Homo sapiens: one gene and its partner. The protein of the gene in region 2 binds, or shares a complex with, the protein of the main gene of each other region. Each region holds a gene or a part of one and is shown on either strand. Other genes may lie near its edges.

Region 1 (7,288 bases), on a different chromosome or scaffold from region 2:
GCTTTAGAGGGACATTAATCTTGCAAGACTGTGAGAGATTTCATTCTGCTTTCATCAGATTCTTGAAGAGGTCTATGACACCAAATTCTAAATTTGTGATTCCCAAAATAGCAATTTTCTCCATTAATGTACATGAGATGGTAGAGAACAACCAAACTCATATTCAGAGCCACAACATATAGTTGGACAGTACACCCTACCTGTTCTGTATGGTGATAAGTTATAGCCATGGCTAGGCTCACTAGGTAAGTGACTTGCTCTTTAAGTATGCTCAATGAAAATCTGTTTCTCATCAAAATGGCTAACTGCTCTAGGCAAATAATAATAATGATATATTTTAATATCCACTGATACCCCTTAGTATGTCCCTGGCATTACAGTTAGTGCTTTACATGCAATATCTCACTTAATCCTCACAACCATGTGAGAACTATTATTGTCCCCTTTTTGTTGAATGAGGAGACTGAGGCTTGAGGTGTTTGATAACTTGCCCCAGGTAACAGAACTAGTAAATGCTGGATCTGGGATTTCGATTCAAGTCTTATTCTATAACCTGTGCTCACAATCACTACTGTTTCTCATGGCCAAAAAAAAAAAAATGTTTTATTCTACATATGAAACGTGGAAATGGTGAATCCCAAGGTTATACTGTATAATAAACGCCAAATGATATATTGTTATGTACTGCGTGTTGGTGTCCCCCCAAAATTCACATGTTGAGACCCTATCTCCCCCATTGTGATGGTATTAGGAGATGGAGAGCTTTAGGAAGTGGTTAGAATTAGAGGAAGTGATGAGGGTACAGCCTTTGTGAATGGGATCAGTAGTGCCCTTATGAATCTTGAGAGAGCCTGCTTCCCTCTCTTCTCTGCCATGTGAGAATACAATGAGAAGTAGGCTGTCTACAAGCCAGAAGAGGGTCTTCACCAGAACCTGACCATGTTGGCACCCTGATCTCAGAATTTCAGTCTCTAGAACTGTGAGAAATAAATTTCTGTTGTTTATAAGCCACCCAGTCTATGGTATTTTTTACAGCAGCTCAAACTGACCAAGACATCTATGATAAGAATGAGTAAGTAGCACTGGCATCTCTTTCTCCCTCTGCATTGTCTCCATAGAATGCTTTTCATATACCACATCACCCAAGACAGGCAAATAAAGGGTTCCAGAATCTAGATGTGTGAGGAAAAGACATTAGCTTGGAAAGGTTTTGGTCCCACTGTTAAGCTGTAGTATGTTTCATCTTCATAAAGATACTCTGGAATTAAAAGGCATGTGGAAAAATGACCATACATTATATTCTTGTGAGAATATGGTCACTGGTAGATTATTCAGAGTCTAAAAACTGTATAGCTCCTCTTGATTAGAAAAGAGAGAGGACAGAGGAAAATAGTAAAACTCATATCATGTTTGTTATTCAATGACAGTTTTTATGAAGATTAAGTGAGAGGAGGAGGCTGAAATTAGAGACTAACTTCCAGTTTTAAATTAGATAATCTATAGACAATGGAAAGAACTTAGACTTTGATGTCAAGAAGATCTAGGCCATAAACAGAACTCTGCTACTCACAAGCTATATGATTTGGGGCAACTTATTTTAGCTCCCTGAGTCTCAGTCTCTTCATCATAAAATGGGAATAATTACCGATCCAGCAGAGGTTTTTGTTTTGCTTTGTGGGTAAGGGCTGAATAACATAATATACTTCTAGCTCTCTGCATCACAGTATGTGCTCGATAAAGGGTGCATATTATTATTATTCCCCAACCGCTGAATTAGCCACCTTCCTTTGCAATAAGACAACTTAGCGGGTTTTATAATTCACATTGTAATTATATAGATATCTATATAGGTATCTATATAGATAAACCTATGCAAATCAATATGAATACATTGTCAAAATGGTATTAAACACTTTGTCACCTTCTTTTTGATCACAGTAAAATCACAGCAGTATTTGTTTAGAAAGTATAATTGTCACTGCTTGGTCCCACAAAGTGTTTATTGCCAGTATGGAATACTAGCAATGTTATAAGTATTATAATGGATAATATTTCTAATATTTGATGCTGAAAGTTCTTTTGGTGCCTAAACTTAGTAAAACTAAACTTAATAAAAATAAAAGTCTTAAGATTGACAGGGAGACTGATAGGTAAATAGCACAAAAAATGGAAGCTGACATTTCTTTATGTAGGTGTGACTCATCCCTTTAAAATTACAGAATCTAGAAAGGCCCATTTTCCCCCACCTAATAGCTCAAATTTATAAAGTTATATTAAATGCTTCACCTAATCAACCTGTCAGTGTTACTCTATATACTCACATTAAAAGATCTATATTATGAACTATGTGATAATTTAAAGCAATTGCAGATACTTAAGTACCTCATAACCTAAAAAGAAACAGAAACCACAGATATGAGAAAGACAAAATATTTATGGGGAGAACACATCTTAAGTTCAAACCACTAATGATAATGCTATCAAATTATTTAAGAAAAGAATGAAAACAAAATTGACTTATACCCAACAAACCTGAAGTGGATTCTGATTTGGTCTTTGCTTCAGAGCTGAGTTCTGTTGGCAAGGGCACTGAGTGTTTCAAGACGTGAGTTGTTTTTGCAGGTACTTCTATTTCGGAAGAGGATCCTAGCTGTTTACCAAACAGATTTTTCCTTCATAAGTAAATCATTTTACTATTTCCTTCATCTACTTTCTCATTTTATCCTCGACCTCTGTCCAGTACCCTCATTACAAGCCAACACCCACCCAAACAAAACTCAATGTTGACCGTCTTGCTCCATGTAAACTCTACCTTAGTTTTTTCTTTAGGTTTAGGGAGTGACTCTTCTTTGCTGCTTTTTGTCCACAATGATTTAACTGCTCCAAAAATTTGCTGGCTTGTAGCATATACCTTTTTTGCTGTTACCTAATTAAAACAAAAAGTAAGTCAAATAACATATTTTTAAAAGTTAAAATTAAAAATGTATTTTAGATTTGTCAGGTATTTTATATGAACACTCAAGTCAGAATCAATAAAGATATAAATCTCTAAATCATATAACACAAAGCACCATTTCTAAAATCTTATATGAAAAATTTTTTGTGTCATGCAAAGGTTATAAGAAATGTATAATCTGCATTCACATTGTAACATAAATTTAAAACTATGTCTATTTTTTTAATTTTTTTCAGCTTTAGTGAGATTAGATTGACATATATAAAATTGTATCTATTTAAGGTATATAACACGGTGATTTGATATAAGTGAAAACTGTGTCTATTAACAGGAGTTTGGGGAATATAGTTTGAGATAATAAACTGCTGACTGAGAAAATGAGATTTTTAACATGCTACAAAGTTAATGCTTTTGCTTAAAATTTGATGGTGCTTTCTCCATTCATAAAGAAATAAAAGGCATCAACTAATTCCTCCAAAGAATAATATTCTTTTTTGGTAGAAAGGTAAAATAAACAATGACTGATAAATATACTCAAGCAGAGGCCAGGATGCTGGCTGAATTCCTAAAGTTACCGTTATTTTCATTCATCTCTATTTCTCTTTGAAAATCTACTTCTGATTTCTTCTTTTTCCTATTCTTCTCCAATGCTTTTGTTCATTTTAGTTAAAGTAATTTCAACAGCCATTGATTTTTCAAGTTTTGAAGATGTTTTGAGGTATTTTTCAGGATTATAATTTCTACAAACATAAATTTTTTAAAAATTATGTTTCCATCCTCAAATAGAAATATTTTTATTGTTTTTACTAAGTATATACCTACAGTTGAAAAGTTAAGTAATATACTAATATAAAGAAATTCCTCTTCCTCCCCAAATATAACCTTTGTTAACAGTTATACATATATCCTTCCTCAATTTTTACTCATCTATACATTATATATACACAAATTTTAAAACAAATGTAATATTAATATTTACAGATCTTTCAAAAAAGATGAAGTAGATCTATATGTACTGGCATGAATGGAAGTCCATGATGAACCACTAATTTGAAAAAGTTACAGAATAGATTATACAATACAATCTCAATTATGTTTTCAATTAAATTTTAAAATAAATTACATATGTATTTAGTTTGTTTTCCTTTTCAAATACTTGAGATCACAGTACACATATTATTCTGAGATATGATTTTTTTAAAAGCTTGACAGTATTTCAAAGGCACGGTTCTATATTACTTTATATACCGTAGATCTACTTTTTAAATTTGCTGCTTAGTTTAGCATTCTATAATGTATGCACCACAATTTGTTTAACAAATTCCCTATTGAGGCACGATGATTTAACAAATCCCGTTGGTGAGCATATGGGCTGTTTTCCTTTTTGGGGGTAGGGAGATGGCAAGTATAAGCAATGATGAAATTAGCATCCTTATACATACAACTGGGACCATAACCCTTATAGTATTTCCTCAGGATAAATTCCTAGAGCTGAAATTTCTGCACTGAAGCGTATACACATATTAATTTTTGACAGTATTACCATGTTGCTCTCCAGAAAGTCAGCAATATACTGCAGCAATTTACACTACCACCAAGAGTATATGTCTGTTTTCCTACCCTATTTACCAGCAGTGATATTATAAGTCTTTTAAATCTTTGTCAAATTTAAAGGCTAAAAACCAATATCTAAATGATTTTTCAAATTTGCATTTATTTGTTGATGAAATCAAGTATCTTACATATATTAGGCCATTTATGTTTCTTATTTTGTAGACTGCTTTTTTCATTTTCCCAGAGGGCACATTCATCTTTTGCTCATTGATTTATAGGAGTTCTTTTTTTTGTTTGTTTTTTTTGAGACGGAGTCTCTCTCTGTCACCCAGGCTGGAGTACAGTGGCGTGATCTCAGCTCACTGCAAGCTCCGCCTCCCAGATTCATGCCCATTCTCCTGTCTCAGCTTCCCGAGTAGCTGGGACTACAGGCGCACGCCACCATACCCACGCCACCATGCCCGGCTAATTTTTTGTATTTTTAGTAGAGACGGGGTTTCACCGTGTTAGCCAGGATGGTCTCGATCTCCTGACCTCGTGATCCGTCTGCCTCGGCTTCCCAAAGTGCTGGGATTACAGGCATGAGCCACCACGCCTGGCCAGGAGTTCTTAATACATGAAGGATATTAGTACTTTGTCATATATGTTACAAATAGTTTTCCAAGTTTTTCATGTATCCATTAACTTTGTGTATGGTATATTGTAATCTACAGAAATGTATTAATTTTGATGTAGTCAAATATGTCAACTTTTTCTTTAATGGCTTCTAGATTGTATTTTGCTTAAGAAAGCTGTTCCTATCTCAAGATTAAACAGGTATTCCTCTTATTTCTTCTCATACCTTTTATAGTATTCTAGTTTATGATTAGATCTGTATTCCACCTAGAATTAGTTTTCCCATGATAGTTGGTAAAGGTCTGAGTAATTCTACAAACAGCCAATTATCCCAACATATTTCTTGGAAAAAAAAAATCCATCCTTTCCATTACACACTGATCTGAAATGCCACCTGTACCACGTATCAATCCCCTACCCTCATGTGTACAAAAATATACTCAATATAATTGTTTGGATATTCTCTTTTGTCCTCTTGATCTATTTTATTGTGTATACTATAGTAACCAATACACAGTAGACAGACAACAAATACTAGATGAATGAATGTCACACTCCATTCAAATCCAGAGCTTTTGTAAGAACTGAATTAAATTTCTAGACTTTGAAATACTCGCCGTATTTCAACATTTAGTCTTTCATCGAGAAACAGGATATATGCCCAAAGACATTCAAGATTTTTTGTTAAATATCCTTCACATATAAGTGAGATCAAACAGTATTTGTCTTTCTGTGTCTATCTTATTTCACTGAGTATAATGTCCTCTGGGTTATCCATGCCATTGCAAATGGCAGAATTTCCGTTTTTAATGGTTAAATAGCAGTCTGTTGTAGTATATATGTACCAAATTATCTTTATCCCTTTATCTACTGAGAGACACTTAGGTTGTTTCTAATCTTGACTATTGTGAATAATGCTGCAATGAACATGGAGGTGCATATATCTCTTCAAGATACTGATTTCATTTTTTTTTTTTTTGGACATATACGCAGAATAGAAGCAGAGAGTAGAATGGAGGTTGCCAGGGGATAGCAGTGAGGTAAATGAGATGTTGGTCAAAGGGTACAAACTTTCAGTCATAAGATGAACAAGTTCTGGGTATATAATGTGCTGCATGGGTGGTGATGGATATGTTAATTTGATTGTAATAATCATTACACAATGTATATGTATGTCAAATCATCATGTTGTACACCTTGAATATATTCAATCTTTATTCATCAATTAAATATTGTGAAAATTTAAAAATACCCTTCAGTAAAGTTTGATAGTTTATTTTTCTTTTAAACAGGCGTTAAAACATTATTTGGTAAGTCTATTCCTAGATATTTCATAGCTTTCAAAGACAGACTACTTGCTACTCTTTACATAAGTTAATAATAAAAATATTGTGAGGAAAATTATAAAAAGCGAAGAGTAATTCCATCTTGAAGTCTATTTTCAAAATGATGAGTAACTGGAGTGAGTCTTTTGTTTTTCAAAGGACCTTCTAGACTTATCATTTCTTAAACTTTTTAATATCACAGATACCTTGGAGAAGCTCTTAAAAGCTATAGGCCCTTTCCTTCAGAAAAACACAGATACACTAAAAAGCTCTCACCTGACATTCTTTTAGGAGACTTGACTGATTAATAAAATGTTTTTTTAATTTATTATAAATGATGTTTGTAGAATGTTGAATATTCATCCCTATCAGGTGCTCTCCAATATGCTAAGGTACTATCTTTCACAAGTTGATTAGTATGCTTATTAAGTTCCTTTTTTCCCCAAGTTGCTGCATCAGTTTTACTTATAATTAAACAGTCTAAATGTAACTTAATATGATAAAATATGAGTTTAAAAAGAATTATTGTTTCTAGGAAAATTAAGTTAAATGCTTCGTAAAGACTCAAATGTGAATGGCTAAAAAAATAACTGCTATGAAATTAGAGGTGAGCAAGACAATTATAACAGCTGGGAGAAATAAACATCTAAAAGGATTCTGCACTCAATTTTTTTTAATGTTTTTAACTGTTCATTCTATTTTAAAAGAACCTAATCTGGAAATTGTAGAAGACATACTACAGATATGGCTTACTGTTGGAAAGATGTTATAGATCTTTAACCAGGAGACCAATACTCAAAGAAAAGCCCTACTTCAAAATAGAGAAAAAGGAAAGATT
Region 2 (7,288 bases):
GGACAGAGATAAGCATTAAAAAACAAAACAAAAACCTGTTTTGCTTTCAAGCAAAATTTAAAGGAAATATAAAAGAGTCAGGATTTGGTGGGTTCAAAAATAAAACTGCTTATTGTTTTCAAATAGATTCTCAAATAGAGAAGGGCTTCAAGCCAAAGATCAAATCTAGTGTGTGACCAAAAGATACTTTGAGATCTCAAAAAGATCTAAGGAGGTGCCCCTCAGAGAGTCTTTTTACCTTGAGGAAAAGGCCCTCTAAGAATCATAAGGATGTGTTTCCCAGATTCTATTGAATCAATAAGGTTACTCAGAACATTAAAGGTGTTACCTACAGCAGCCTCACAGGAAGCCCAAAATGGAGAAGGGCTTATCTTGATAAGATGTGTATCATGCATCTAATGAAGAAAATCCCATTAAGATTCACAGGAAACCCACAAACTTGTTGAGAATTGTGTCAATAAAAAACATGCTGGCTTATATTTAAAGTGAAAAAGAGGACAAAATGAAAAGAAGCTTCTAGACAAACTTCTACAGACAGGAAGTAGGCTGTGAAACAATTCAGCTGTAACAGACAACATATTCTGGAAACGGAAGAATAATTCAAGTGTAAAACCAGGAGCCCAAAGGGTAGAACCAAGAGCTGAGGAGAATCATTCCCAAGCAGTAGGACTGAGCTCTCATCAAGGAATTAGAAACATAGGGCCAGCTGAATTTTACACTTGTTATGGAATGGTGACTGCTGTGTGCCTCTTAGTTTCTGCCTTTTTGAATAGGAGTGTCTAGAGTGATTATCCTGTGTCTGTCATACCACCATATGCTGAATGTATGGGGAGCAGATAATTTGTCTCTTTAGTTTACAGGGCTTTAGATCACCAAAAAAAGTGTTTAAGAAGCTATACCCTAGGGACCACATTCAAGATGTCTTATCCATAGTAGGATCTGATTCAGATGACAAGATCTTGTTCCTAATGCTGATGCTTTGATGGCATTAGACTCTGGAGAGTCTTGGAGAAGGTTGTGAGTGGGAGGGATGTGCATGTGGGAGGGATGTCAGTTGGGTCCAGAAGGCTGAGGATAATATCCAAAATTGACTGCAACAATACTTCCTATACCACATGCTGTTCCAGAAACGTGCCCCTCTCCCAACAATAATAAGTTTTATGTACACTTCCCTTAAACAAGGGCAGGCCTTTGTTACTAATTCACTAATAGAAGGCAGTGAAAGTGATGCTCTGTAACTCCTGAGACTAAGACATAAAAAGGATACAGCTTCTACCTAGCTCTGCCTCTTGTCACACTTGCCCTTGGAACCCAGCCACCAAAGTGTATGGAAGTCCAGACACTTAAAGATGCCACAGATGGGTGATCCAGCCAACAGTCCCTGCTGAGGTGTCAGCTGCAGCCAGTATTTACTGCCACACATGAGAGTAAAGAAGACTTGGGGATGACTGTAGACCTAGTAACTATCTGACTGCAACTTCATGAGGGTCTCTGAGCAAAAATTTTCCAGAACTGAGTAAGGCAATAAATACTGTTATTTTACCCCAAGCTCAAGGTGGCCTGTTATGCAGCTGTAACTCATAAGAACAGATCTTTTTAAATTCATGGATTTAAACACTTTTGATGGATTTCAACCATTTGTAATTACTGTCTTTTTGCTCAAATTTTCCTATCTTGGGCCAATGGAAGCCTCTGCAAGTTTAGGGTGTGTATGTGTGTATCTAGCTCTGGCTCTATACTTCCGGCCATCTGCAAATACCTGGTGGCAGGTATTTTTTTTTTCCTCTATGTGACAAAATCCCCTTAACATAAAATTCACCATTCTAACCATTTTAAAATGTACAATTCCACGGTATTTAGTACATCCACGATGTTGTACAACAACCATCACCACTATCTAATCTTAGAACATTTTCATCACCCTAAAAGGAAATCCTATATCCATTAAGCAGTCATCCCCCATTTTCCTCTCTCTCTGGCCCCTGGCAACCACCATGTACTTTCTGTTTCTATGAATCTGCCTGTTTGAGATATTTTGTATAAATGGAATCACACAATGTACATCTTTTTGTCCAGCTTCTTTCACTTAGTGTAATGTTTTCACGATTCATTCACATTGTAACATGTATCACATATGTAGCTTGTACTTCATTCCTTTTTATGGCTGAATCTAATATTTTATCACGTAAATATACCATATTTTGTTTAACCAGTCATCAGTTAATGGACATTTGGGTTGCCTCACCTTTTGGCTGTGAATTGTGAATAATGTTGCTATGAATATTCATCTAAAAGTTTTTGTTTGAACACCTGTTTTTTATTCTTTTGGCAGGGAACTTCAAGGTCATATGGTAATTCTATGTTTAAATTACTGAGACACAGCCAGGCTCAGTCGCTCACGCCTGTAATCCCAGCACTTTGGGAGGCTGAGGCAGGCAGATCACCTGAGGTTGGGAATTCGAGACCAGCCTGACCAACATGGAGAAGCCCCGCGTCTCCAGTAAAAATACAAAATTAGCTGGGCGTGGTGGCGCATGCCTGTAATCCCAGCTACTCGGGAGGCTGAAGCAGGAGAATCCCTTGAACCCAGGAGGTAGAGGTTGCGGTGAGCCGAGATCGCGCCACTGCACTCCAGCCTGGGCAACAAGAGTGAAACTCTGTCTCCAGAAAAAAAAAAAAAAGTTACTGAGACACCACTAAACTATTTTTTCACAGCAGCTGTACCATTTTACATTCCCACTAGCAATGTATGAGGGTTCCAATTTCTCTATACCCTCACCAACATTTGTTATTTTCCATTTTTGTTTTGAGATGGAGTTTTGCTCTTGTCGCCCAGGCTGGAGTGCAATGGCGCAATCTCAGCTCCCTGCAACCTTCGCCTCCCGGGTTCAAGTGATTCTCCTGCCTCAGCCTCCCAAGTAGCTGGGATTACAGGTGTGTACCACCATGCCCGGCTAATTTGTTATTTTCCATTTTTATTATAACCATCTTAGTGGTTGTGAACTGAGTATCTCACGGTTTTAATTTGCATTTCCCTAGTGTCAAAGGATGTTGAGCATCTTTCCATGTGCTTCTTAGCCATCTGTATATCTGCTTTGGATGAATGGCTATTCAAGTCCTTTGCTCATGCATACACATACACGCACACACGCGCACACACACACGCACACAAATACATATATGTATATATGTGGAGACAGCATCTCACTCTGTCACCGAGACTGGAGTGCTGTGGCACCATCATGGTTCACTGCAGCCTCGACCTCACAGGCTCAAGCAATCCTCCCACCTCTCAGCCTACCGAGTAGCTAACACTACAGGTGCATGCCACCACACCCAGCTAATGTTTGTATTTTTTGTAGAGACAGAGTTTCACCATGTTGTCCAGGCTAGTCTTGAACTCCTGCGCTCAAGCGTTCTGCCTGCCTCAGCTTCCCAAAGTGCTGGGATGACAGGCATGAGCCACAGAGCCTGGGCCCTTTGCCTGTATTTTTATTTGGGTAGTCTTTTTTGTTACTGAGTTGCAGGAGTTCCTTACCTAAAAAGAAACACCTCATCAGATATGAGGGTCTAGTATCCAAAATATCTAGTATCCATTAGAATACTTTCATCCTTTTCACTCTCAAGTATCCCTCTGATGCACAAAAATTTAAAATTTTAATGAAGTCCAATTTATCTTTAGTTTCTCTTGTTGCTTGTGCTTTTGGTGTTATAGTTAAGAAACCATTGCCAAACATAAGGTCTGTCTCCAGAGCTCTCTTAAGTACTAAACTATTAACATAAACTAAATATCCTACATTAACACACAAAATATTGGCTACTTTTTTGTCCTGGAATTCCTTTTTATTAATAAGGACCTATGACATAGAAAGGACAACACTGTTTCAAAGCAATCTGTCTAGACATATGTTATAAGGTTAGCCTTGCTGCTTCTAACCCGCAGAAACGTGATATTAAAAAAAAGAGGAAACATATAATTCCCATGTAATGTTCTTTTTTTTTTTGAGATGGAGTCTCGCTGTGACACCCAGGCTGGAGTGCAATGGTGTGATCTCGGCTCACTGCAACCTCCATCTCCTGGGTTTAAGAGATTCTCCTGCCTCAGCCTCCCGGGCAGCTGGGATTACAGGCACCTGCCACCACACCCGGCTAATTTTTGTATTTTTAGTAGAGACGGGGTTTCACCATATTGGCCAGGCTGGTCTTGAACTCCTGACCTCAAGTGTTCCGCCCCATGATTAATGCTGTTACACAGACCATCTGTTCCTTAGCTCTACCAAACTAAAGTGAAGACATAAAGAAACCACAATCTAGCATGACAACCTGGACATGGAGCCTGTAGTATGAGCTGCCTCATGTGAACTCTAACTAGAGGTTCCAGGTTTCCTCCACAGACTGCTGGTTGCTGTCAACTGATAACGTTTTTGTGGATCTTGTCATACATAAGGACTCCTCCCACACAAACGAAAAAGGCACCCATAAGTTAATGGGCAGTTCTACATTTGAAATATAGATTGATATACAACAAATTAACTTTTTCTACTGTTAATTTAAAATAGTTTATAAGAATCATGCATTAAGGTTAAAAAGTATATCCCACAAAAAAATCCAGTAAGTTTTTACATTGAAATTTTACATTTTACATTACAATTTTACATTGAAGCAGCATTACATTTCAGTATAAACATATTCTATTCTAGGAGAACACGTGCTCTTTAGTTATAGAAATGGCAGATACTTATCAGTATGACAAAAGCAGGAACTTGACACTTTAGTTTTCCCTGCACATATGTGAATATATTTTGTATGTTATCACTTCGGTGTAGTAAGTTACGGCGTAAGATGTATTTCAAAATGGTTTGAAGGCTACTGGTCTAGAGATATGAAAAAAGGAACAATGAAGAGGATTCTAGCATGGGTAGAAGCAAACACCTGGCCGCATGATCTACTAAACTACTTTCTAGCACGTGTGGTTGGCTGCCTATCTCTATCACTGAGTAACATAATGTTTCATAATCCTAACAGAAAGAAGGAATTCTAGAAGATGATAGCTCATGTCCACACACAAGTTCAATCCTAAACTAGCTGGGTTATCAAACTTGGTCTTAAGTAAGCTGGAGCGGTTGATCCTCAAGAATAATAATGTTTCTTCTTCTTCTTTCAAGTTATAAGCAGGAAAGACTACTCCATATGTAAATGACCACTTCCAGGTTTGTAGTTTGAGAGAAGGCTAGGCTAGGCGGAAAGCCCATGTCCTCCAAACTCAATGACCACTTCAAAAAGGCTGGGCCTGGTGATGCAGTATTGGGACTAAGAGAAGAAAGATGGTGTTAGGTCTGAGGAATAAAAGAAGAAAACAAAAACAGAGGGACCAGAGTTCTAAAGCACATTTACTGAATACCCACATCTAAGGAATGCAAGGATGATAAGCCCAAACATAAAGAATAAGGCAGATACTGTGTCGGGTGCAGTGACTTAAGCCTGTAATCCCAGCACTTTGGGAGCCCAAGGCGGGCAGATCACGACGTCAGGAGATCGAGACCATCCCGGCTAATATGGTGAAACCCTGTCTCTACTAAAAATACAAAATATTAGCTGGGCACAGTGGCACGTGCCTGCAGTCCCAGTTACTCGAGAGACTGAGGCAGGAGAATTGCTAGAACCCAGGAGGCGGAGGTTGCAGTGAGCCGAGATTGCACCACTGCATTCCAGCCTGGGCAAAGAATAAGGTAGATACTATCTGTGATGGTTCATTTTATGTGTCAACTTGGACTGTGTTTTTGGATGAGATTAACATTTTAATTGGTGAACTAGTGGCCAGGCATGGTGGCTCACTCCTGTAATCCCATCACTTTGGGAGGCAAAGGCGGGTGGATTGCTTGAGCCCAGGAGTTTGAGACCAGCCTGGGTAATATAGCCTGTCTCTACAGAAAAAAAAATACAAAAGTTAGCTGGGTGTGGTGGTGCATGCCTGCAGTCCTAGCTACTCAGGAGGCTGAGGTGGGAGGATGGCTTGAGTCTGGTGGATGGAGGTTGTAGTGAGCTGAGATTGCACCAATGCACTCCAGCCTGGGTGACAGAGCAAGACCCTATCTCAAAAAAAAAAAAAAAAAAATTTGCCCTATAACATGGGTGGGCTTCATTCAATCAGTTGAGGGCTCAAAAACAACAAAAAGCAAGAGGCAATTCTCTAGCAGACTGCCTCCAGACTGAAACTGCACCATCCACTCTCCTGGGTTTCCAGGCTGCTGGCCAGCAGACTGCAACTGCAATATTGGCTGTCCTAGGTCTCCAGTCTGCCAAACCACACAGCAGATTCTGGACTTGCCAGTCTCCATAACTGTGTGAGTAGAGTCCTTACAATAAATCTTTCAGCCAGGCGCGGTGGCTCACGCCTGTAATCCCAGCACTTTGGGAGGCCAAGGTGGGGGGATCACAAGGTCAGGAGATCGAGACTATCCTGGCTAACACGGTGAAACCCCGTCTCTACTAAAAATACAAAAAAAAAAAAAAAAAAAAAATTAGGCGTGGTGGCAGGCGCCTGTAGTCCCAGCTACTTGGGAGGCTGAGGCAGGAGAATGGCATGAACCCGGGAGGCGGAGCTTGCAGTGTGCTGAAATGGCGCCACTGCACTCCAGCCTGGGTGACAGAGCAAGACTCCATCTCAAAAAAAATTAATAAATAAATAATAAATCTTCCTAGGCTGGGCACTATGGCTCACGCCTGTAATCCCAGCACTTTGGGGAGGAGAAGGTGGGGATATTGCTTGAGCCCAGAAGTTCAAAATGAGCTGGAACAACATTGCGAGATCCCATCTCTACTAAAAGTCCAAAACATTGGCTGGGCATGGTGGCATAAGCCTGTAGTCCCAGCTACTCAGGAGGTGAGGTGGGAGGATCGCTTAAGCCCAGGAGATTGAGACTGCAATGAGTTATGATCACACTGCTGTACTCCAGCCTGGGCAACAGAATGAGACCCTATCTCTACACACACACACACACCCTTATTGTTTCTGTTTCTCTGGAGAATCTGAATATATAATCAGAGGTTTGAAAATCTATGGGATGTTTAAAGGGAGGTCACATCCACTTACACAGATTAAGAAAAATTCCACTTTGGGAGGCCGAGGTGGGCATATCACTTGAGCCCAGAAGCTGAAGACCAGCCTGGGAAACATAATGAGACCCCATCTCTAAAAAATCTTTTTAAATTAAAAAAAAATTCATGAACACATTCATTCTTTCATTTATATATGTCATAAACATTCACTGAGCATCTACTTGGAGCC

What was found.
Region 1: IMMT (region 2) and APOOL share a complex: the UniProt entries of both Homo sapiens proteins name them as parts of the mitochondrial contact site and cristae organizing system (MICOS) complex.

Annotation. Positions count from the first base shown.
Region 1 is NC_000023.11:85,069,636-85,076,923, reverse strand, and holds part of APOOL (MICOS complex subunit MIC27 precursor), read right to left. Parts: intron 2,927-7,288; coding exon 2,813-2,926; intron 2,651-2,812; coding exon 2,533-2,650; coding exon of another isoform or gene 2,524-2,532; intron 1-2,523. UniProt on the Homo sapiens protein: Component of the MICOS complex, a large protein complex of the mitochondrial inner membrane that plays crucial roles in the maintenance of crista junctions, inner membrane architecture, and formation of contact sites to the outer membrane.
Region 2 is NC_000002.12:86,185,249-86,192,536, forward strand, and holds part of IMMT (MICOS complex subunit MIC60), read right to left. Parts: intron 1-7,288. UniProt on the Homo sapiens protein: Component of the MICOS complex, a large protein complex of the mitochondrial inner membrane that plays crucial roles in the maintenance of crista junctions, inner membrane architecture, and formation of contact sites to the outer membrane.